Regions from separate parts of the Homo sapiens genome. Here region 1 is linked to region 2. Evidence: fine-mapped expression QTL. A gene starts in region 2. The other region holds a variant in brackets. All regions are shown on one strand. Distances are from middle to middle. Region 1 overlaps MFSD6 (major facilitator superfamily domain containing 6). Region 2 holds the start of NEMP2-DT (NEMP2 divergent transcript).

What was found.
Region 1: its variant is fine-mapped to the expression of NEMP2-DT in subcutaneous fat (GTEx, PIP 0.98).

Annotation. Positions count from the first base shown.
Region 1 is chr2:190,417,532-190,429,683 of GRCh38, forward strand. The region is part of intron 2 of MFSD6 (major facilitator superfamily domain containing 6); the gene reads left to right. It also overlaps a transcript of NEMP2 not described here. Among named protein-coding and RNA genes, the nearest start is that of MFSD6, 15 kb to the left of the region's middle. RefSeq lists a silencer at 11,292-11,491. The variant A/G (reference allele first, on the strand shown) is at 6,576.
Region 2 is chr2:190,527,967-190,540,118 of GRCh38, forward strand. It overlaps NEMP2-DT (NEMP2 divergent transcript), which reads left to right and starts at 6,872. Exons shown (of 5, transcript NR_183903.1): 1 at 6,872-7,155. It overlaps NEMP2 (nuclear envelope integral membrane protein 2), which reads right to left and starts at 6,756. Exons shown (of 9, transcript NM_001142645.2): 1 at 6,593-6,756. The coding sequence starts at 6,689. RefSeq lists a silencer at 6,420-7,069.

The DNA.
Region 1 (12,152 bases), 110 kb before region 2:
GGTGCTCGATCTATAGCTGTAGGGTTTTTTTGGTTGTTCAAATGAATGTCTTTTTTTCAGTATAATTCCATTGTATTTTGTGTTCTGTCGTCCCTCAGCCTGGTATTCAAGGCCCTGTGCCATCTGTTGCTGTCTGGGTGGCCTCATGTGCCCTTTAGTCTTGGGATAAATCTTTTACGGATCCTCTGCTGCCTTTTCTTTCCTCTACCCTGGAATAGTTTTCCCACTCATCTTTGCCTGTGAATCCTGCCCATCTTTCAGAGTTCAATTTAAGCCCCTCGTTTTCTTGACAACCCCTGTCTGAAGTATGGACACCCTACTTGGAACTCCAGAAGCATGCCTATTGTCCCTAATATCTTTTAGTTAATAAATTATATAGGGCTATGTGGCTTTTCTTCCATTATTATTCTGACTTTTCATTTAACCCTTTAGTGGTGTGTGTGTGTGTGTGTGTGTGTGTGTGTGTGTGTATGTGAGAGAGAGAGAGATGTGGTTTATCATTGCTTGTCAATGATAAAGCAAGTCTTTGAGGCCTAAGACCTAACTTTTGGGATCCCTGTCTCATAGCTGCACAGTGCATTGAGAGTCAGTACCTGCTAAGAGCAGCACTGCTACTCATTCCCTATGTGACTTTGGGCTGGTTATTTGCCTTCTCTGTGCCACAGTTTCCTCATTGGTAAAACTGGGAAAGGAATCATTTCCACCCCAGAGAACTGTTGTGAGTATTAAATGAGTTAATACATGCTAGGTTCATAGCAAGTGTTACTTAAGTGTTATTGTATTGTAGTTGGTAATAATATGATAGTATAATCCACTGATTCCCTGTTGAAGTGCAAATATGTTGTCAAGATGGGGCAACCAAGGTTGTGAATCAGCTTGCTTATGATCTAGCAGTCAGGTTTTACTAGGAGCCTTGGAAAGGCCCACCAAGAATGACAAGGTGGTTGGGCACAGTGGCCCACACCTGTAATTCCAGTACTTTAGGAGGCTGAGGCAAATGGATCACTTGAGCCCAGGAGTTCAAGACCAGCCTGGGCAACATAGTGAGACCCTGTCTCTGCAAACAACTGAAAAGAATAGCTGAAAGTGGTGGTGTGTGCCTGTAGTCCCAGCTACTTGGGAGGTTGAGGTGGGAGGATCACTTGAGCCCAGGAGGTCAAGGCTGCAGTGAGCTGTGATTGTGCCACTGCGCTCCAGCCTGGGTGGCAGAAGGAGCCCCTATCTAAAAAAACAAAACAAAACAAAAGAATGACAAGGGTGCCAGGTTCTAGTTTCTGGGAGGAGTTTCAATCCCAGTGGAATGCTGCTAGTAGCAGCTCTGGGGAGCTAGTAGCAGCTCTGGGGAGCCCGTGGGCAGTGCTGAGTGCCTGGAGGGCTCAGGCTGGAAACTGGGCTGACAGGACTGAGACCAGTTTTGTTTCTTTCATCATTTGGCTTTGCCATAAAGGAACCATGTCACAATACCCTGAAAGGAAGAGGAAGATTCCAAAATAGTCATTCATCTTTGCACAGATCAGTGCCCTTGTAGCCTGTGTGACTGTTATAAAACTAACCTTATATATTTTTTTCATGACATTGGCTAAATGTCTAGCAGATGCTAAAGCAATCCTGATGGAAAAAAAAAATCTATGGGAATTGACCTCGCACACTGTGTCTCTGGAAAAAGCTCTATCCTGGAAGAAGCTGGGGGTTGAACTGAATGTTTGAGTGCGGTGTGTGAATACCTAGATTCTAACGCTCTTTTACAGTAGTTTCCCTGTGTCTATACTGGTCATAATTGCAGCAGTATGTTAGAGTCCAGCTCTGGGACTCACATTTCCCAAAGCCATTGAGAATGTTGGCCAATAACAGTTGACAAGACAGAGCTGGCTGCAAGGGTTTGAAAAGTTGATTTCCCTGCTTCGCAGCTTCAGCCCTCATCACTAGGCAACACTGAGTTATGATGGCCATGGCACAAGGAAGAGTGTCCCTTCTGTGGTATCCAGGGACTATTTCCTCTCCATCACTGATAATTATGTCACTGCTATGTTATAGCACACATTCTTATCATGTTTGTAAATCTAACCTTTGGCAATTATTCCAAATAATGTATTCGATCTCAGGGTTTCTTTCTTCAAAAGTTGAATCCATTTTCATACTCTCATATATTTGCGGATAACTCAATATATGTTTGAACAGTTTTAATTCAAATACATAATGAAGAAAGCTATCAGTTTTAATAAGAATGATTTCATTGCCTCTCATCAATAATTCAGAAATACCTGCTATTTGAATGACTCAGTGTAGGTACTGGTAGCATAGCTTTCCAGGTTTTAGAAGTCTGTGTTATATTTTCACAATAGTTGTATTGATTACTATCATTAGACTGTGCCAGGTGAGAAGACTTCTGCTTTCCTAAAAAGTAAACAAAGCCTTCCTTATCTGATTAGGATGAACTGCAAACCTGCACTAGAGAATATTTCCCAGAAAAGATCATAAAGTTAATTCTGTATATAATTTGAAATGTCTTCTTAACTCTATATTTTCAAGTTTCTTTTTTTAAAAAAGCATTAAGACTCAGACATTAAAAACAAAATATTAACTGAATTGATTCATGTTCATTGCCCACTGTCTTAGTTTGCTCAGGCTGCTATAACAAAATATATAGCAACCATATATAGCATATATATATAGCAACCATATATAGACAGGGTTGCTTGAACCACAGTTTATTTCTCACAGTTCTGGAGACTGAGAAATCCAACATCAAGGTGCAAGTAAACTCTGTTCCTGTTGAGGGCCCTCTTCCTGGCTACTAGATAGCCACCTTCTTGCTATGTGGATAGAGAGAGAGTTGCCTCCTCTTATAAGGGCATTAATCCCATCAAAAAGGTCCTATCTCATGACCTCTTCTCAATCTAATTACCTCCAAACGGGGCTACCTCCAAATACCATCATATTGGGGTTTAGGGCTTCAACTTATTAATTTTGGAGGGGCTGTAGACATTTAGCCCATATCAACCTCTCAATAAACAAAATCTCCTTTCACTTTATAAACAGATTGTCTCATCCAGCATATAAATATTTTTACTACTCTTTGTACTTGTTTTGTCATTCCTTAAGACAAATTAAATATAATCCACTTCAGCCAAAGATGCCCTACATTGGGATATACTTGTTTTTGGTTTCTTTTTGTCCCTGATCCTGTGATTACACTTTATTTATTATGCTTTATTTCATAACTGTGTTTATAATGTGATTTCTCCATGTTTTGGTTCCTTTTTACCAAAATCTAAATATGACCTGAAAATATTGAGTAAAAAAAAATAATGACCTGAGTTTAACAGTTTTGTTTGTCTTTTAAGATTTGAAATTCATATAAAAGTTACTGTCTATGACATTTATATATGGGATACTGAATGTCATATTACAGAAACATTTCCATAACGACTTTGTATTTGTTGATACTGTGAGAACTACTTAACATCTGGACTTATGTAACCAGAGAAACCTTGTGTAACCTTATGATACTCAAAAGTCATTTGCATATGGTGGAGAGGAAATAATATTTTGGGAGAAAGTCACTCATCAAGGTTTACATCAATATCTTAATGTAAGATATTTCCATTTTTGAATTAGCATATGGGCATCAGTTCTTCATAATCACTTGGACAATTCAGGAAATTATGCCCATTAAAGAGGACTTTGTGTCCTTCTCTGATCTACCTGGGGAAGATTCAGCAGATGATTTATGTAGAATAATTAATTAAAGTTCACTCTAAGGCCCCTGATTAGAATTGATGTGGAAGGACATTCTGTACAACTCTGAAAAATGTTTAGTCAGTGATAGAAGGGTGTTAGTAGTTGGCTTTAATGTCGTTTGTAAAGACAAAATCCACATGACTCCATATTTCTTTCTCAGTTTTTATTTTTAAAGTGAGAGTTATGGATGTATGAAGTTAAAAAAATGAACATGTTTACAAGGTTACAAACCAAAACAAAAAAACAGACTTCTGTGCTCTTTTTATTTCTCTTCCCAGAGGCAACTACTTTTTCTGCAATTATTTTGATATTCACCTATTTATTTATTTGAGACAGTTCTCACCCTGTCACCCAGGCTGAGTGCAGTGGTATGATCATAGCTCACTGTCCTGGGCACCTCAGCATCCCAAGTAGCTGGGACTGTAAGCATGTACCACCATACCTGGCTAACTTAAAAAAAAAATTTTTTTTAAAGATGGGATCTCACTATGTTGCCCAGAACTCCTGACTTTAATTGATCCTCTTGCCTTGGCCTCCCAAAATAGTAGGATTATCACCTGTATGTCTTTAAATAAAATTCTTGTATCTGTATTTCTTGACTTTAATTTTATTTAAAGACACTAGATAATATCTAGTGTCTTCCCACTATAGAAGAAACCAAGTTAACTCTCTCTTCTGCTCCTGACTGTCTAATGAGAAAGCCTAACTTTCTCATTTCTCTGACTTCCCAATGTAGCTATAAGGCAATTTTGGTTAGTTCAGTATTCATGTTTGTATTTGTATGACTGTGTAATCATAACAGAGACATGTAGTAAACTGCATTTTTTCTTTTTCTGTGCAACTCTTTGTTTTCTTGTAGTGTTCTGTTTATTTAACTTTCTCTGTATTTATCAGTTATTCATCCTTGAATGTTTCACCAGCCATCTAAATTTCCTCTTAGGACATTCAGGTGTATTGGTATTCTACCAGTGTCATTTTTCTGACGGTCTCTCCTGAAACCTTCAGTCCTATTCCCACTAGACTGGTTGCCCTTCAAAGTTGTCATTCCTGGGATCTCCAGTTCTGTCATCCCTGTATTCCTGTTGCTTCTCTCCCATGTTAGATCTCTTATTTCCTGTATCCCTTGTCTGTCTTTCGCTTGATTTATCCTTTTGTTCTGGTGGAACACAACCTGAGAAAGGGTACATAAGAGATAAATTTTGTGAGAAATTGCATGTGTAAAATGTCTTTATTTCACCCATAAACTCAAGTAATAATTTGGCTACATATAGATTGTGATGATGTTGTTGAGATATCTGAAGCCATTCTCATTCCTGATGCTTATTATGTGAAATATTTTATACTCTGAAAGTTTGTAAGGTAATTCGTTTGTCCCAGTGTTCTGAAACGATGATGTGCTTTGGCTTGTGTCCATTTTTATTCATTGTGTTAGGTACTAGGTGGGTCATTTCACTCAGACAACTCTTATCTTTCAGTTTTGAGGCATTTTCTTGAAATTTTAAAGTTTTCTTCCCTTAATTTTTTTCTTTTCTTCCTTCTTGGAGTTATTATTTTCTAGATGTTTGACTTCCTGGGAGATGCTATATCTGTCTCATTTTTTCTCTCCTACTTTCATCTTTTTTTTTCTTCATATTAAGTTCTTTTGTTGTAGAATACTGTAGTTCAGTGAGTTTTTACAAAGTCAACACTTCATGAAATAAAGCCCTAGATAAGAAAATACATTATCAGCACCCCAAAATTCCTTCTAGTCACTATCTCCCTTAAGGGTAACCCCTATCCTAACTTCTTTTAAACTTTATTTTGAGATCATTGTGGATTCACATGTAGTTGTTAGAAATAATAGAGCAATGTCCCATGTATCCTGTACCCCCTGACTTTTCCCCAGTGATAACATCTTGCAAAACTATAGCATAATAGCACCATTGACATTGAGGCAGTCAAGATACAGAACATTTCTCTCTGTCGCCACCAAGGTCCCTCATGTTGCCCTTGTATAGCCACCTCTACTTCCCTCCTGTCCCCACTCTCTAGTGAATTCCTGGCAATCACCTGTCTATCTCTATTTCAATGATGTTGTCATTTCAAGAATGTTATATGAATAGAATCATACAGTATGTAATGTTTTGAGATAGGATTTTTTCATTCTATAATTATCTGGAAATTTATCCAGTTTATTGCATGTATCAATCGTTTGCTCCTTTTTATTGCTGCATAATATCCCATAGTAAAGCTGTAGTACAATTTGTTTAATTAGTCCTTCCATCCTTTGAAGGGCTTTTGGGTTGTCTCCACTTTTTGGCTATTATGAAGAAAGCTGCTATAAACATTTATGCATGGGTTTCTGTGTGAAAATAAGTTTTCATTTATCTGGAATAAATTCCCAGAAGTGTAATTACTGGGTTTTATGGTAATCATGTATTTAGTTTTATTAGAAACTGCTAAACTGCTTTCTAGAGTGGTGTACCATTTTAAATCCCCACCCACAGTATATGAGTAATTTGGTAGTTGTGCCTCCTTATCAGAATTCAGTGTTATCCCTATTTTTATTTTAACCATTCTTATAGACGTGTAGTGATATAGCATCATGGTTTTAATTTACATTTCCCTAATCATTAATGATGTTGAACATCTTTTCATTTGTATCTATGCATTTATATATCCTGTCTATCCTCTTCAGTGAAATGTCCCTTCACGTTTTTTGTCCATTTTCTAATTGGATTGTTTGTTGAGTTTGGAGAATTCTTTACATATTCTAGAAACTAATCCTTCGCTGGATTTGTGGTTTCCAAGTATTTTCTCACAGTCTGTAGCTTGTGTTTTCATCCTCTTTGCAG[A/G]GTCTTTTAAAGAGCAAAAGTTTTAAATTTTAATGAAGTCTAACATTAGTTTTTCCTTTTATGGATCATGGTATCGGTGTCAAGTCTAAAAACTCTGCCTAGCACTAGAGGCTAAAGATTTTCTTCTTCTTTTTTTTTTTTTCTAAATGTTTTATAGTTTCAAATTGTATAGTTAATGATCCATTTTGAGTTAATATTTGTATAAGGTATAAGACTTAGTTTGAGGTTATTTATTTATTTTTTTTTCAGACAGAGTTTCACTCTTATTGCCCAGGCTGGAGTGCAATGGCTCTGTCTCGGCTCACTGCAACCTCCGCCTCCCAGGTTCAAGTGATTCTCCTGCCTCAGCCTCCCGAGTAGCTGGGATTACAGGCACATGACACCATGCCCAGCTAATTTTGTATTTTTAGTAGAGATGGGGTTTCTCCATGTTGGTCAGGATGGTCTCGAACTCCTGACCTCAGGTGATCCGTCCACCTCGGCCACCAAAGTGCTGGGATTACAGGCGTGAGCCACTGCGCCTGGCCGAGTTTCATTATTTTTGCCCATGGATGTCTAATTACCTCAGCACCATTTGTTGAAAGGTTACCTTTCCACCATTGAATTTTTTTTGCATCTTTGTTAAAAAACAGTTGGGCATATTTGGGTGGATTTGTTCTGGGTTCTGTATTCTGTTACATTGATCTATGTGTCTGTCCTTCTGCTAATACCACACGGTCTTAATGCACAGCTATATGATCTTTTTCAAAACTGCTTTAGCTATTCGTTTCTTTCCTTTTCTGTATAAATTTTAAAATCTTGTCTATATCTACAAAAATATGTTGCTGAGATTTTGATAGGAGTTGTGTTAAACCTGTATATCAATTTGAGGAGAATTGAAATTCATAAACATGGATCCATTTATTTAGCTCTTTGATTTCTTTCATCAGCATTTTATGGTTTTCAGCATAAGGCCTTGTACACATTTTTTAAATTTATACCCAAGTGTTTCTTTTTTAAGCAGCTGTAAATGGTATTATAATTTTGGTGTCCATGTGTTCATTGCTAGTATACAGAAATACAATTAATTATTGTATGCTTATCTTGTATCCTGTGAACTTGCTGAACTCACTTATTAGTTCTAGAAGTTTATTTATAGGTTTCTTGGGATTTTCTACCTAGTCATGTTAACTGCAAATAGGGACAGTTTCTTTGTTTTTGATCTGTATGTCTTTTGTTTTCTTTTATTTCCTATTGCACTGGTGAGAACTTCCAGCATTGTGTTGCATAAGAATGATGAGAACAGACAGTCTTGCCTTGTTCCCTATCTTAGAGAAAAAGCATTCAGTCTTTCACCATTAAGTGCAGTGTTACCCATGGGTTTCCGTAGGTGATCTTTATCAAATTGAGAACATTCCCCTCTGTTCTTAGTTTTCTGAGACTTTTACCTCAGAACCTATTTTCTGAGACTTTTTCAAATGTTTATTTTATCAAGTGTTTTTCTGCATTGATTGGTAAGCTGAAGTAATTTTTCTTTTTTAGCTTATTAACATGGTAGATTGAATTGACTGACTTTGAAATATTGCATCAGCCTTGTATTTTTGGAATCAACCACACTTTGTCATGTTGTATAATTCTTTTTATATGTTGCTAAATTCTCTTTTCTAATATTTTCTTAAGGGTTCTTGTATCTAGATTTACCAGGGATATTAGTAGTTTTCTGTTTTTTTGGACAGTCTTTTTTTCTGGATATAGCATTCTGCATTGACAATTCTTTTCTTTTAGCACTTAAAAAAAATTGTGCCACTTCCAGTGTCCATGGTTTCTCAGAAATCTGCTATCATTTCAATTGTTTTTCTCCCATTGGTAAGTTGTTTCTCTCTGCTTTCAAAATTTTTTTCCTTGCCTTTAGTTTTTAGAAGTTTGACTGATGAGTTTTGGTGTGGGCATTTTGTTTTAGTTTTATCCTGTTGGGATTGCTCAGCTTCTGGAATCTGTAGGTTTATGTCTTTTGCCAATTTGAGAAGTTTTTAGCCTTTACTTCTTTGACAACTTTTTCACTCCCTTTTTTTCTCCTCACCTTCCAGGACTATGATGACATGAACATTAGATCTTTAGTTACAGTCCCATAGGTCCTTAAGGCTCTTTCACTTTATTTTCTCTCTGTTCAGATTGTGTAATTCCTATTGTTCTGTATCCCAATTCACTCATTAATCCCTCTGTCCCCTTTATTCTGCTTTATTAAGTGTATCCATTAAGATTTATTTTTGTGGTTGTATTTTCCAGTTATAAGTTTTCCATTTTTTCTTCCATTTCTTTGCTGAGACTTTCTGTTTTTTTTGTTTTGTTTCAAGCATGTTTATAATTGCCTATCTAAGCATTTTTAGGATGGCTTTTTAAAAATATTTTAAATTCAGGGGGTACAATGCATGTTTGTTACATGGGTATATTGTGTAGTTGTGGGGATTGGGCTTCTGCTGTACCCATCACCCAAATATTGAACATTGTACACAACAGGTAACTTTTCAGCCCTCATCCCCCTCCCATTCTCCCCACTTTTGGAGTCCCCAGTGTCTATTATTTCCAAATGATGGTTGTTTTCAAAATGGTTGTCATTCCTGTCATCTCAATGTTGGCATCCATTGATTGCCTTTCTCCATTCAGTTTGAGATCTTCCTGGTTCTTGGTGTGACGAATGATTTTTTATTGAAAGCAAGATGTTTTGGGTATTATTTTATGAGACTGTGGATCTTATTTAGACCTTCTGCTTTAGCTGACTTTTTCTGAAACTGCTCTGGCAAGAGAAGGGAGGATGCTGCTTTATTACTGCCAGCTGGAGGTAGAAGTCCAAGTTCCTCACTCAGCCTCTTTGGATACCTGAAGGTGAAAGACTTTTCATTACTGTGAAGTGGAGATGGGCATTTCAGCTCCCCAGTAGGCCTCCTCACATGGCCTTCAGTGACACCCATTGAGAGTGAGGGGTGGACCTCCTTACTGCTGGCCAGTGGTGAAAGTCCTGATTCTCTACTGTAACTCCTGACATCACCCCAGTGGGGAAAGGTAAGGGTGCCTTGTTACCAACAGGTGGGTTGGCAGTCCAGGCTTCCCATGTAATCTCCACTGATACTGTGGCCTCATTACTGCCTAGCAGGGATGAAAGTCCTTGCTCCTTTATCTTCTCTGATCCCACCTTAGTTGAGGGGTTGGGGGTTCCCCATTATAGCTTGGTGAGGGCAGAATTGTAGGCTCCCTGCTCAGCCTTTGATGGTGTGGGCAGGAGTGGGAATAGGGTTATGATCATTTTTTCTGTGGTATTTGGCTGCAGTCGAAGTTATTATCTAAAGTTCTGTGTCTTTCTAGACTGCCCCTTTCCTGGTTCATTAGATAGCAAGCAGGCACTTGTTAGGGCTTTTTGTTTGCACCTATCTTCACCCATCAGTATTTCTTGGTTCTTCAGCTCCACTCATACTTGTGTTGTTCCTTGGGTACCAAGGTCCATAGCTGGTCTGCCTTTTTTTGTCTATCTTTCAGAGTCTTCTATGTTTACTTTATATATTATTGTCTAGGGTTTTTAGTTGTACTTAGCAGAAGTGATAGAGAAAATTGTGTCTACTCCATCTTCTTGGAAAAGAAGTCTACCACTTTTTTTTTTTCTTTTTTTTTGAGACAGAGTTTCACTCTTGTCACCCAGGCTAGAGTGCAATGGCACAATCTTGGCTCACTGCAATCCCCACCTCCTGGGTTCAAGCGATTCTCCTGTCTCAGCCTCCTGAGTAGCTGGGCTTACAGGTGCCTGCCACCATGCCCAGCTAATTTTTGTATTTTTAGTAGAGATGGGGTTTCACCACGTTGATCAGACTGGTCTCGAACTCCTGACCTCAGGTGATCCACTTGCCTCAGCCTCCCAAAGTGCTGGGATTACAGGCGTGAGCCACTGTGCCCTGCCATGTCTACCACTTTTAATACCATAACTTAGTTTTGCCTGTTTATTATTTTTCCATAAGTGGAATCATGTGTTCAGTGATCTTTTGTTTCCTGCTTCTCTTAGTCCATATTATGTTTGTGAGATTCATCCTTGTCACTGCATGTAGTTGTAGTTTGTTCATTTTTACTGTTGCACAGTATTTCTTTGGATGGAAATACTACAATTTATGTATCTGCTGTAGACAGGTTGCTCCCAGTTTTGAGCCATTAAAATTATTCTGCAGTGAACATGTTTATAGATGTCTTTCGGTGAATATACATATCTTTTGGTTGTCATAGGGTCTTACACTCAGGATTAGTAGCTATTCCCAGTTTTTAAAGTAGTGTATCAATTTACAGTCCCACCAGCAATCTATGAGAGTTCTAGTTGCTCCACATCCTCATCAACATTTGATATTACAGGTTGAGCATCCCTTATTTAAAATGCTTGGGACCAGGAGTATTTTGGATTTAGAATTTTTTCAAATTTTAGAATATTTGTTTTATACTTACCTGTTCAGCCTTCTAAATCCAAAAATCAAAAATGCTACAATGTGCATCTCCTTTGAGTATCATGTTGGCACTCAAACATTTAGAGATGCTTGCTTATTTATTTATTTATTTATTTATTTATTTATTTATTGAGACAGAGTTGCACTCTTTCACCCATGCTGGAGGGCAGTGGTGCTATCTCAGCTCACTGCAACCCTGCTTCCTGGGTTCAAGTGATTCTCCTGCCTCAGCCCCCCGAGTAGCTGGGATTACAGGCATCTGCCACCATGCCTGGCTAATTTTTTTAGTTTTAATAGAGATGGGGTTTTGCCACATTGGCCAGGCTGGTCTTAAACTCCTGGCTTCAAGTGATCCACCTCCCTCGGCCTCTCAAAGTGCTGGGATTACAGGTGTGAGCCACCATGCCCAGCCTCAATCTTTTTTATTTCAGCCATTTTTAGAGTATGTTACATTATTGTATTCTGGTTTTAATGCTTTCACTGGCGATTAATCAAGTTGATCATCTTTTTACATATTTATTGGCCATTTGTATAGGCTCTTTTGTGAGGTGCCTATTCAAGCTTTTTGCTTATTTTTCCTATTGGGTTACCTGATATTTTCCTACTGATTTTTTTCTATTGATTTTAAAGAATAAATTTTTATATATCTGTATAATTCTTTTGTTACGTGTGTGTGTGTGTGTGTGTGTATACATATATCACCAAAATATCTTCTCTCACTCTTTGACTTGCCATTTCAATCTTTAATGGTAGCTTATGAACAGAAATTCTTTTTTTTTTTTTGAGATGGAGTCTCACTCTGTCGCCCAGCCTGGAGTACAGTGGTGCAATCTCGGCTCACTGCAACCTCCGTCTCCTGGGTTCAAGCGATTCTCCTGCCTCAGCCTCCCAAGCAGCTGGGATTACAGGCACCCACCACCATGCCCAGCTAATTTTTGTATTTTTTTAGTAAAGACGGGGTTTCATCATGTTGGCCAGCCTGGTTTCGAACTCTTGATCTCAGGTGATCCTCCCAAAGTGCTAGGATTACAGGTATGAGCTACTGCACCTAGCCAGAAATTCTTAATTTTAATGTAGTTCAATTATTTTTTCTTCTTTAATGTTTAATATACTCTGTGTCTTA
Region 2 (12,152 bases):
TGCTAAAAGGTTGAAGACTGCTGTTCTACAGGCTCTCTGTTAAATACAGGATACTAAAAATGAAAAACATGCTCCTGCATGGTGTGTCCATGCACAAGAGCCAAAAGAAGAATTCACAACCAGGGCTATGAATACACAAAGCAACCAATGCTGAGGCACATTTTTGAATATATCTGAGATGCAAATGACTTCTGGCCAAGGGCAGCATAGGGGGAAGTGCAGTCCCAGGGATATCAAAGGGCTGGCAGCTACCTATAGAAAAGAAGAATGTCAAGGAATGTAGTATATAACCTGGAAGATCCTGAGCAACTGCAATGAGAAGACATGAGAACACATTAAATGCTCCCAGTTAGTAAGCAGCAGAGGTGTGGGGATCAGATCTCTGGATTCACCTTGTCATGTTCTGCCTTTGCACAGCCTCCTCGGGGGGGTCTCTAAGCATGGCTAGAGTTAATAACTTTATACTGGGAGTCCTCAAACAAAAGTGATTCCTACCTATCGTTGGAAAGGGAGTGCATTCCAGCAGGGCAGGTGAAGAGCATGAAGTCTCAGGTACACGGACCCAGCAGCCCAAACTATGATAATAATGTTTACTTCCAGACAGGTCTTTCTTCACCACCCATGTGCTCAATGCTAGATGGGCTTTTCTTGTGGGTGCCTCCAAAGGTCCCTCACTGCAATTCTTCTAGTGAGTGCTGCTACTTCAAGGGCTAAATCAACTCTCATAGAACAGTTCCCTTTTGTTAATGGTCTGAGGAAATAACCTTTTGGTGGGGCCTGAGTTTTGCAATCAAATGCTCTCTTCAAATAAGGTTCTTTCCACTTGATCCTAAGACTGTCTCCTAAATCATTCCAAACCTGGAGCTCTTAAGAGCAAGATGATGCAATTTAAGTATAGTGTATACTGCAGTTTCAACATAGGAATAAATGCTTCTCTCTTACCCAAGCCACATTCCTCTTGCACTAGGATGATGTAATAGCCTTCTATCTGGCTGGTCTCCCTGCTTCCAGAATTGCTGCCCCCCAACTACCATGTTTTCCCCTACAACACACTTTTCAATTAGCAAATAGATCTTTTTAAAAACATGAATTGGGCCCGGGTACAATGGCTCATGCCTGTAATTTCGCTTGAACCTGGGAGGCGAGGTTGCAGTGAGCTGAGATCACACCACTGCACTCCAGCCTGGGCGACAGAGTGAGACTCTGTCTCAAAACAAAAACAAACACAAACAAACAAAAACATGAATGGGAACCCATCATTTACCTGCTTAAAACCCTCCAATGGTTTCCTTTTACACCATTAATAAAATCCCCCTCCCTTCCAGGGACCTGAGTGCCTCTATGACCTTCCCTCCTCCACCTTCCCTCCCAGCCCACTGCTCCAGCCACAGCTGGCCTTCCTGTCCTCAAGATGCCAGCGAGCCCCCACATAAAGTTTCCTCAGTCTGCTGCAACCTTCTTCTCCCAGATCTTGGCAGAGCTCATCCCTTCCAATCACTGATATACTCTATCAAACACTCCCTTCTCAGAAAGGCCTTCTTTGACCCCACTGTCTAAACAAACACACCCCAACCACTTCCACCTGCTTTATTCTTTCTTCATATTACATATATATTTATTAGCTTATACTCTGTCTCTCCATGAAGTCAGGGACATTGCATGTTTATCACTGTAACCCCCAGAACTTAAATATTTATCTTTTGTGTGTAGCTTGTGGTTCAAGAGGACTAGTGGGTTATTTAGGCATGTGTGGCCTACCAATGGAAGTCCAGCCAATCTTTGTAAGAGCCTGGCCAGGAATAGTCAGCACCGTAAAAGAAGGTGCACTCTGGCCCTCCCTTGAAACCACCTGATGTAGTAGGATGCCCTTGCCAGCCTGTGCCACTGCCATCCCATTTACAGAACTGACAAAGCATGAGGGCCAGTCTGGAAGCCACAGGCTGCACTTCCCCCTTGCCCTACCCCATGGCCAATACATCCATAGCTAGAGGGTTGAGTACTGTAACCCTTAACATCCTCTGGACTGGGGATCATCTTCTTGCCCCTCACTGGATAGAGGAGGTCAGAAAGAATAGGTGGCATTAAGCTTCTTTTGTTTGACTCATATATGATACATCAGTGTATTCTGGGTAAGGGATCTGCCAGTTAGAGGAAAAGAACTTGTTCTGCATTTCCCCTCAGTCTTCAACCAGATTAAGGACAGCATAGAAGGAAGGAGGTTGTCCTGACTGTTCATGCCTATAGACACGCTAGTAAAAGCATGTTGCAGTGTTTTCCCTCGAATTCTCCAGAGTGGCCTCTGGCTTTTGAGGTGAAGCTGATGTGGAATTTACACAATCCATGAGATTCCACAAAGTGTCAGTGCTTCATGGTGTCCTCTGGCTGCCCTTTTTTCTTATCACCTCTCTCCCGAGGTGAATGAGTCTCAAACAACCCACACAGGAATTCCTAAATATCTAAGGGACCATAAATTCAGCCATAAGAAGCCACAAGCCTAGCTTCAAGTCAGTTCATTAAGCCACGGGCTATTTGGACTAGGCAAAAGACAGTGATTGTCACAAGACTGTTATCACAGCTGGCCCACTGTTCTCTCTAGAGAGAACAGATCTTCCAATCTTAGATTGATTATAAAGGCTGTATCTTTCTTAGGTCTCTCCTCCCTTTAGCAATCTTCTTCTAGAGCCATTTCACTGCTCGGTTTCAATCATGTCCAATGGAAACAGGAAACAGAGCCAGTTTGACTGCTTATTTGAACTCTATGGCTGATTATGCCCTGACACTGAAGGCTATGAAGCTGCCTGCATGTCTGCGGGTTTCATTTATTCATGAGGCCCCAGTTATTGCTGGTTAATTCTACTAGGATAGAACCTCCGGTAGCAGATGTAGGCAAACTCAAATGTATCAAAACAACAACGGGCCAGGTGCTGAGGCTCATGCCTGTAATCCCAGCACTTTGGGAGGCCAAGGCAGGTGGATCCCTTAAGGCCAGGAATTTGAGACCAGCCTGGGCAATATGGTGAAACCCTGTCTTTACCAAAAATAAAAAATTGGCCAGGATCATAATTCAGTCTCAAAAATAAATAAACATTTAAAAATTAGAACAAAAACAACAACAATCCCCTTACAATGCAATCCAGGAAATGAAACAGAATTTCTAGGAATTTTTAAAAATCTAACAATAATCATTCATTTGGTCAAAAGGGAACAATACCTGCCTAGGGAAAGCTACTGCTTCTACTTGAGGCTGAGGTATTTAATATGTCCGTACCCTGGAAGGTGCTCCATAACCTAGGTAATCACTTCCTCAAGCCTGAATCAGATCGGGAGAAAGATCTGGAAGTGTAGGCTATCCCAGGTTTGCCTCAACCCTCAAGGACTGAGGAGTATCTGTGGGATCAACCCTGAATGCCATCCTTACTATGGAAAGACAGGTTTCTAAGCCTGGAAGGGCATCATTTTCCTTAACTTCTTGCAATCCTCAGCAGGCTCTTTGATGCTTTCAATTAACCTGACTTCTAGAGAACAGTATATTTCTGGATAGTTGTGCCCAAATTTCTAAGATGTTACAGGAGGCATTAATTATTTACATTACCAAAGGATTCAGAAAGTCAGGGTTCCCTTAACCAATGAGATAGATTCCTTAGTTCATTTTAAATACCACTCAATTTATGAATATTCAATTAATCTAATTTTAGAATTACATATCTAGTATAAAAAAGGGACAGCTACATATCACCTAATTATAAGCTCAATTATCTCCTTTGTAGTACTTTTGTCATTTATTAGTTTTCCTAAATGTAAGTATATGTTTAAGTTAAAGAGTTGAGTCATATATACGGAAAAAAAAACCTCAGTCAAAACATCAGAAAAGAGCAGGCAGTACTTAAACCTACTTACAGAATATGCTAAAAATAAAAAGCACAAACACCTCAAATCTTAGCAGAACCTAACTCCCAACACAAAAATATCTCACCAATGTTCCTCCTGAAAACTGACATGGCCCTCATATGGGGAAAAAAAATATCTTCAGATGAAACTAGAATGGAATCATAATATAAACACTTATTAACTTATATGACAAATTTCCCCATTTTCCCTATAACTGTTTTTCTTTGGGGACAAGGAAGGGGAGGGAGAAGAGTAGGAAACACAAAAAGCAAAAAACCAACAAGTCTTAACTTGTGAGAAGTCAAATGGACTCAGGATTTTTCTTACTATTTGTTTTTTGTAAATACACATTTTCAAAGGTGTTAACGTGAGGCACCAAAGTGATAAAGGTAACTATTCTCTTAACCTCAGTTTTTTTTAACCTGAATATTCATCTTTTTCTTTCTCCAAGAATATGAGAATGAAACTGGAATTAGTATATACTCATGCACACTCAGGTCTTTAACTTCAAGTTCAAATCTTCACAGATGAATCTTAAAGCTGTGGTGTCAAATGGACTGTTATAGTTTAAGCCTGGAAAGCCACTGACAGGGCCTGAACTTCATCTCAGGACAACACATGGTTTCTAGGGACCTCACTAACTGGGTGAAAATTATGGGAAACTCTTGAAGTTTCTCCTCTCAGTCAGACAACTACCTGCTCCTCCTGTGTCAACTGTCTCTGACTTTCCTCCAAATAGAGTGACAGAAAGCTGGGGTTGGTCTGAATGTTCTCCATTCCATTGAAGTGTGTGTTATTCAAGACAAAATTTTAGAACAGGAAGGCACCTTAGGTATCACTAATCCAAGCCCCTCGCTTAAAGGAAGTACCAGCTGTTTCCTCTCAGGGTCCTCAAGAAACCATAGACTTTTAAAGAGCAGCTATGGTTCTTAAGCCTAGTCTAATCCAGGGCTGCCAACAGTGTCACTGGCACACTACCAGATGCTGGGCGCTTCACAGTCCGTATTGGAAAGCCTACCGGAATGGCAGGCATCCCTCTAAGGCTACAAAAGTTGCCATTCTTCTTAGCTGTGGACTAGTTTTATCAAGTCAGTGGGCATCCTGCATGTCTCAGGCAGAACAGAAGCTCCAATAAGTATTTATGTGTGTCTTTGATTAACAAAGCAGAGAAGCAGGCTGTTACTATTATACTAAATGCGGTAACATAAAAACTTTAAAAACACCAGGTTCACTGAGGTGAGGAAAATACTGGAAACTCTTCAGTAAAAACATCTTCATTTTACTCAAGAGAAAACTACGGTCCATAAAGACTCTGTGCCTGGACCAAGGTTATACCACAAGTTGTGGCTGAAGGAATGAGTGGTCTAGAACCCAAGGTGCTGGGTGCTGGTCTAAGGCTACTTCTAATTTTCTCGCTGTTGCCATGCCCAGAAACCTTCCTGCTTAGACAGATTTGTGTTTTATTTTTTCACCAGCATAAAATTGTTGTATTTCTTACTACCAAACCTTCGTTTTCTCATCTGTAAAATGGGTATAAAATGGTGCTTTCCCGCATAGGGCTTCTATGGGTATTAAATATGATAGATACTGCAGTTAAAGCACTTATAACACTGCCTAGCACATACTGAACACTCAAAAAATTTCTCTTCAATGAAAACTGGAATCCAACACTTCCCCAACATATAACTCACTGCAAGATTCCCTCAGTTGGGAGCTGTGGCAGAATCTGATAATGACCTCATCAACATCCAGTCTCTCATTCATCCTTAGATAAAAAACCGCGGTATAACCGGAGGGAGGGCCATGCCCAGCTAAAAGAATACACTTGGCAGCCTCCCTTGAAACCAGGGTAGCCAAAGCAAGGAAGGGAAGTTGGTAGACAGTGCACCCAGGAAATCTTTTAAAAGATTTTATGAGGGGAAAAAAAAAAAGAAACAGAAATGTGAAGCTCATGGTAAGTTAGCGGCAGGTCTGGAGTTGGAACTCTAGGTTTCTGACTTCCCCAGGTGTCCTTCCCAGATCCTTCCCCAGTGTGCCAGCATCTTAAGCCCACTCCGTGGCGAGCCCCTACAGCTAGCAGCCGCTACCAGTTCTTGCTTCCTGTGTGCCAGGCATTGTGCACACGAACACCACAAGAACCTTGTGAGGCCTCATTACCTGCCGCTCACGTGGGACCGTTATGTTTACTCGCTCAAGGTCACAACAGTCAGGGGCAGAAGAATTTTCGCTCCGATTCTGAAGCTGAAGCTGTTACCTTCTCTAGTCTTGAGACCAAAGGAATGCGAGATAGTGAAATAACAAGGATTTCAACACGCATTGATGTACTGTACAAAAGGCCGTGTGCTGAAAGTCTGGAGACTAGGGTCAGCTGTGCCAGTGACAAGCTGTGTGACCCTGGGCAAATCAAAACCTCTCTGAGTTTCGGTTGCTTCTGTAAAACGAGGGAATTGGGCGACTGGATCGCGCGGTTGCTTCTAATTCTAAAATTACAAAATGTCCAACTGCCAGGCGAGAGACTACGGAAGCCCAGTAAGACAGGAAGGGCGGGCGGGGCCTGCCCGGGAGACCCCAAAGCGAGAAAAGGGAGCGCCCGCCCCAGTGGGCCTCGCGGTGCCGCCCGGGCCAAAGAGCGCGCCCTCAGGGCAGCCGCGAAGCCGGGGAGCGAGCACGCACGCGCGCGCCGCCGCCGCCGGTCCCGGGTTACCTGATAACGCTGCCGCCGCCGCCTCCCCGCGCACGGGCAGTGTGGCCAGGGGCGGCAGCCAGAGCAGCAGCCACCACCGCCCTTGGCGCGGCCCCATTTCGTTAGGGGTCAGCTCCGTGCGACCCGAGCCCTAGGGGACCGGCTCCGCTGCGAGGAGCGGAAGTGGCGCGGGGGCTCAGAGAAGGCGGAGGGGGCGGTGAGGCCCGAACGCGGGAAAGGCGGAGACCCCGCCTCCCCGGGGCGGAGGGAGAGTTGGGCTCGTTGCTCCAGCCTCCGCCCGCGGCCTCGGGGCACGGCGGGCCCAGGCCGGAGGAGCTTTCGGTGGCGCGACCCCGCTGGCATGCTCCCGGCCTCGGCCTCGGCCTCGGCCTTGGCCTCCGGGCCTCCAGCGCACGCGGGGCGTCCAGGGCCTCATCTTCCCCTGGGGACCGCCCGGCCGTGTCCCGCTGCCCTCGGCGCAGGGGTGGGAGTTGCAGAGAGGAAGAGTCGCTAACCCGGAGTGTTTCTTAAAACTTGGCTGACCTGTGACCTGCGGATTTGGAGGCTGAATTCTCCGAGCACCTGTGAGTGACAGCCCGTGAATGGGAAGGTCCTTCGGCAAACGCCCTTTTTGTGAATAAAATACATAAAAGCCAGTTTCTTTATTTTACCTTTCTGTTTATCTTTTTACTTTCATTTGGTAACAAGCAATAACAAATTGGAAATTTGGCCGCTTAAGTAACACTGACTTGTATGTCTAATCTCGGACACGGCATTTCAGAGTACAGAGGGGCTCGTAAAATGTTCCTTCACCAACATGACAAGGTTCTCTTAAAATTACCTTATGTTAAAAAAAAGTTTCTTAATGTAATAGATATATTTTTAAATTAACATATAACCTGAATGATCTTAATACTGATAATTAGGAGATATACATATATTTTAAAGAACATTCCCTCCACAGGACCTGGAACCCATTAATTTGACTCAATATTCCATACTTAACTAGGACAGTCTTCTCTAATTCTGGTCTTTTGGTGAGATATCTTAGAGAACCCAAAGTAACAGAAATTATCCTGTTAAAAATAGATAAGCCTCATTTTTCCTAAAAGTCTGAGTAGGATGGACTAGGCTTTCCTTGCCCTCAAAGAAAGGTTTAACCAACTGCCCTTAAGCACTTGGCACCATGTGTACACCATGTATGGCTTTTAAAAAGTTAAGAAATTTCCTTGTAAGGGACTCTTCAGAGGGATGGTTTTTAAAAATAAACCATCATTACTTGAGTGAAGCCTGTCTTCAGAGAAACAGCAGAGCCCTGATCCAATTCTTTCCTGTATTCCCAGGTGCGGTGTGCACTTGCTTCTTGCAAGACAGCTTTTGTACCTAACCACATTCATTTTGATTTGGTTTAATTTTGGATGGCACTATGGAAAGTAGCTAAAATAAACAGGTGGGTTGTTGAATGATGAATGTATTTTCTACAGATATATCTGGTGGAGAAACAAAAGGGCAGGCAGCAATGTACTAAATATTTAAAGTGCTATTTATATCACAGATCCTTAGTAAATATCTGTAAAGAAGCTATATTGAAACACCACATTTTTCTCTATAAGCAATAAATATTTTTCCGGAGATAACAAGAATGTTAGGAGGTGATAGTTCTGTCACTGGGGGACAATCATGAAATTCCACTTAACCTCTCCAAACTTTTCTTCTGTATGAAAACCTTATCCACTGGGGGAAGGGCAGGAAGCTTTACCACCAACAGGATCCTGGCAAAGACCCCCTGCTTCTGGAGAAGAGATAGAAGCACAAACCTTCTGCCCTTTGGGGAGCAGCAGGAGCAGGAAACACTAGGGCTCTGTGTCCTGAACCAATAGAAAATTGAAGTTGGCTACTGCTGGGAAACCCTCTCTCACTCAAGACTCACCACAGATAAAGGAAGGATTTGGCTGCAATGGGAAAGTGTCAGGAATACTGGGAAAGCCCCACATCTAAGGTTCAGGTGCACAGGGCCTGCCTAAAACCAAGGCAGGACCAGGAGTGTGAAAAACCCCTTTTCCCCACTACAAGCCAAGCACCAGTGACAACACCAGTCAACTAGTGAGGAGGAAAAAGAGTGGGGAGAGACCTCTCTGTAACACAGGCATGCAAACACTGCTAAAAGCTGAGTGAGGGACACTGAGAAAAACTCCCCAGCACTCTAGGTTCCACACTAAAACAATGCAATAGTAACCCCCTGCTAGAGGAATCTGAATGAAGCCTGTGGTACAGAGTGAAGGCAAGGATAACAACAACAAAACCCAAATTCAGCACAACTCCTGACTAGATTGACTCAACTACCCACATTATTGACTGGACAGAAGAGGCATGTTTATTTCTGGACATTAATATTATTTACCTCAGTTGTTACTATTCTCCTACATGTGATATCCATCATTTGATCAAAAATTAAAAGACACCCAAAAAAGCAGAGAGGAGAAAAAATCAAGAGGTAAAACAGAACCAGATTCAGAAATGACCCATATATTGGGCTAGAATTAATATGCTTATAAAGCTAGTGGAAAAGGTGAACAATATGCATGAATATATATAGAGAATTTCAGCAGAAAGAGGAAAATTACTTAAAAAGTGAAATGGAAAGGCTAGAAATTAAAAACACCGTATCAGAAATGAAGAATTCTTTCAATGGGCTTATCAGCAGACTGGACATAGCTGAGGAAAGAACCGGTGAATTTGAATATAGGTCGATATGGTTTGGCTGTCTCGCCACCCAAATCTCATTTGAATTGTAGTTCCCATAATCCCCACACATCGTGGGAGGGACCCAGTGGGAGGTAACTGAATCATGGGGGTTATTCTTATGCTAGTGAGTGAGTTCTCATGAAATCTGACGGTTTTATAAGGGGCTTTTCCCCTTCACTCAGCACTTCTCTCCTGCTGCCTTGTGAAGAAGGACATGTTTGCTTCCCCTTCCACCATGATTGTAAGTTTCCTGAGGCCTCCCCAGCCATGCAGAACTGTGAGTCAATTAAACCTCTTTCCTTTATAAATTATGGGATCTGTGGAACTTTGAACTTGAGAGATGATTTAGGGTATCTGGTGGAAGAAATTTCTAAGCAGCAAAGCATTTAAGAGGAAGCAGAGCATGAAAGTTTGGAAAATTTGCAGCCTGACGATGCAATAGAAAAGGAAAACCCATTTTCTGGAGAGAAATTCAACCCAGCTGCAGAAGTTTGCATAAGTCACAAGGAGCTGAATGTTAATCAACAAAACTATGGGGAAAATGTCTCCAGGGCATGTCGGAGACCTTCTCAGCAGCCCCTCCCATCACAGGCTCAGAGGCCTAGGAGGGAAAAATAGTATCATGGGCTGCACCTAGGAAACTTCACCCCATTGGCTCCTCAGCCAAGCACATACAACAAATGTCTGAAACTGTGGTTCCTTTTATACTGAGCAGGATTACCATGGCAACAACACATCAACAGTAGGGTAAAGCTAACCTGTCTCATGATGGTCTAAAGTGACTAATCCACTCTAGCATTCCAAACTAAAACAGGGAAAAAAAGGCAATCTCTCTTCAACCCCTCCCACCATCCCCTTACCTCTGGTAACCACCAACCTACTTTTTATCTTCATAAGATCCAGTTTTTTTTTAGCTCCCACATATAAATGAGAACATGTGATATTTGTTTTTCTGTGCTTGGCTTATTTCACTTAGCATAGTGACCTCCAGTTCCATCCATGTTGCTGCAAATGATAGGATTTCATTTTTTTTATGGCTGAATAATATTCCATTGTGTATATATGCCACATTTTTTAATCCATTCATCTCATTGATGGACACTTGGGTTGATTCCATGTTTTGTCTATTGTGAATAGTGCTTCAGTAAACATGAGAATACAAATATCTCTTTGATATACTAATTTCCTTTCTTTTGGATATATACCCAGTAGTGGAATTTCTGGATCATATGGTAGGTCTAGTTTTGAGAAACTTCCATATAGTTCCCATAGAGGCTGTGCTAATTTACATTTCCACCAACAGTGCACAAGTATTCCCCTTTCTCCACATCCTTACCAGCATATGTTATTCCCTGTCTTTTTGATTAAAAAAAAAACTGAAGTGAGATACCTCATTGTGATTTTGATTTGTACTTTCCTGATTATTTTGGATGTTGAACATTTTTTCGTATACCTGTTAGCTATTTGTATGTCTTCTTTTGAGAAATGTCTATTCAGATCTTTTGCTTATTTTAAAATTGGATTATTTGGGGTTTTTTGCTATTCAATTGTTTGAGTTCCTGATATATTCTGGTTATTAATCTCGGTCAGACAAGTAGTTTGCAAATATTTTCTCTCATTCTATGGGTTGTCTCTTCCGTTTGTTGAGTATTTCCTTTGCTATGCAGAAGCTTGTTAGCTCGATGTAATTCTGTTTGCCTATTTTTTCTTTGGTTCCCTGTACTTTTGTGGTCTTACCAAAAAATCTTTGCCCAAATCAATGTCCTGAAACGTTTTCTTCTAGTAGTTTCATAGTTTCAGGTCTTAGATTTAAGCCTTTAATTCATCTTGAGTTGATGTTTCTATATGGTAAGATATAGAGGTTAGCTTCATCCTTCTGCATATGGTTATCCATTTTTCCCAGCACATTTTATTGAAGAGACTCTCTTCTCCCCATTGTATGTCCTTGGTACTTCTGTTGAAAATGAGTTGGCTCTAAACATGTGGATTTATTTCTGGGTTCTGTATTCTGTGCCATTGGTCTATGTGTCTTTTGTTATGCCAGTACCCTTCTGTTTTGGTTACTATAGCTTTGTAATATATTTTGAAATCAAGTAGTATGATGTCTCCAGCTTTGTTCTTTTCGCCCAGGATTGCTCTGGCTATTTTGAATCTTGAATGGCTTCATACAAATTTTAGGATTTTTTTTTATTTCTGTGAAGAATGTCATTGGTATTTTGATAGGGGTTGTATTGAATTTGTAGATCACTTTGGGCAGTATGGACATTTTAATAATATTAATTATTCCAATCCATGAAATCTTAAATTTCTTTCATCAGTGTTTTATAGTTTACTTACATAGATTTTTCACTTCATTGGTTAAACTGATTCCTAGGTATTTTATACTCTTTGTAGCTATTATAAATGGGATTGGTTTCTTGATTTCTTTTTCAGATTGTTTGCTTTTAGCATATATAAATACAACTGATTTTTGTATGTTGATTTTTGTATCCTGCAACTTTACTGAATTCATTTACTACTTCTAACAGGTTTTTTTGTGGAATCTTTAGGTTTTTCTAAGTAAAAGATCATGTTATCTGCAAATAAGGCTAATTTGACTTCTTCCTTTCCAATTTGGAAGCCCTTTATTTCTTTCTCTTGCCTAATTGCTCTTGCTAGGACTTCCAGTATTATGTTGGCTAAAAGTAGTGAAAGTGGACATCCTTGTCTTGTTCCAGATCTTAGAGGAAAGGGTTTCAATTTCTCCTTATTCAGTATAATGTTAACTATGAGTTTCTCATCTATGGCCCTTATTATTTTGAGATGTTTTTTCTATATTCAGTTCGTTGAAGGTTTT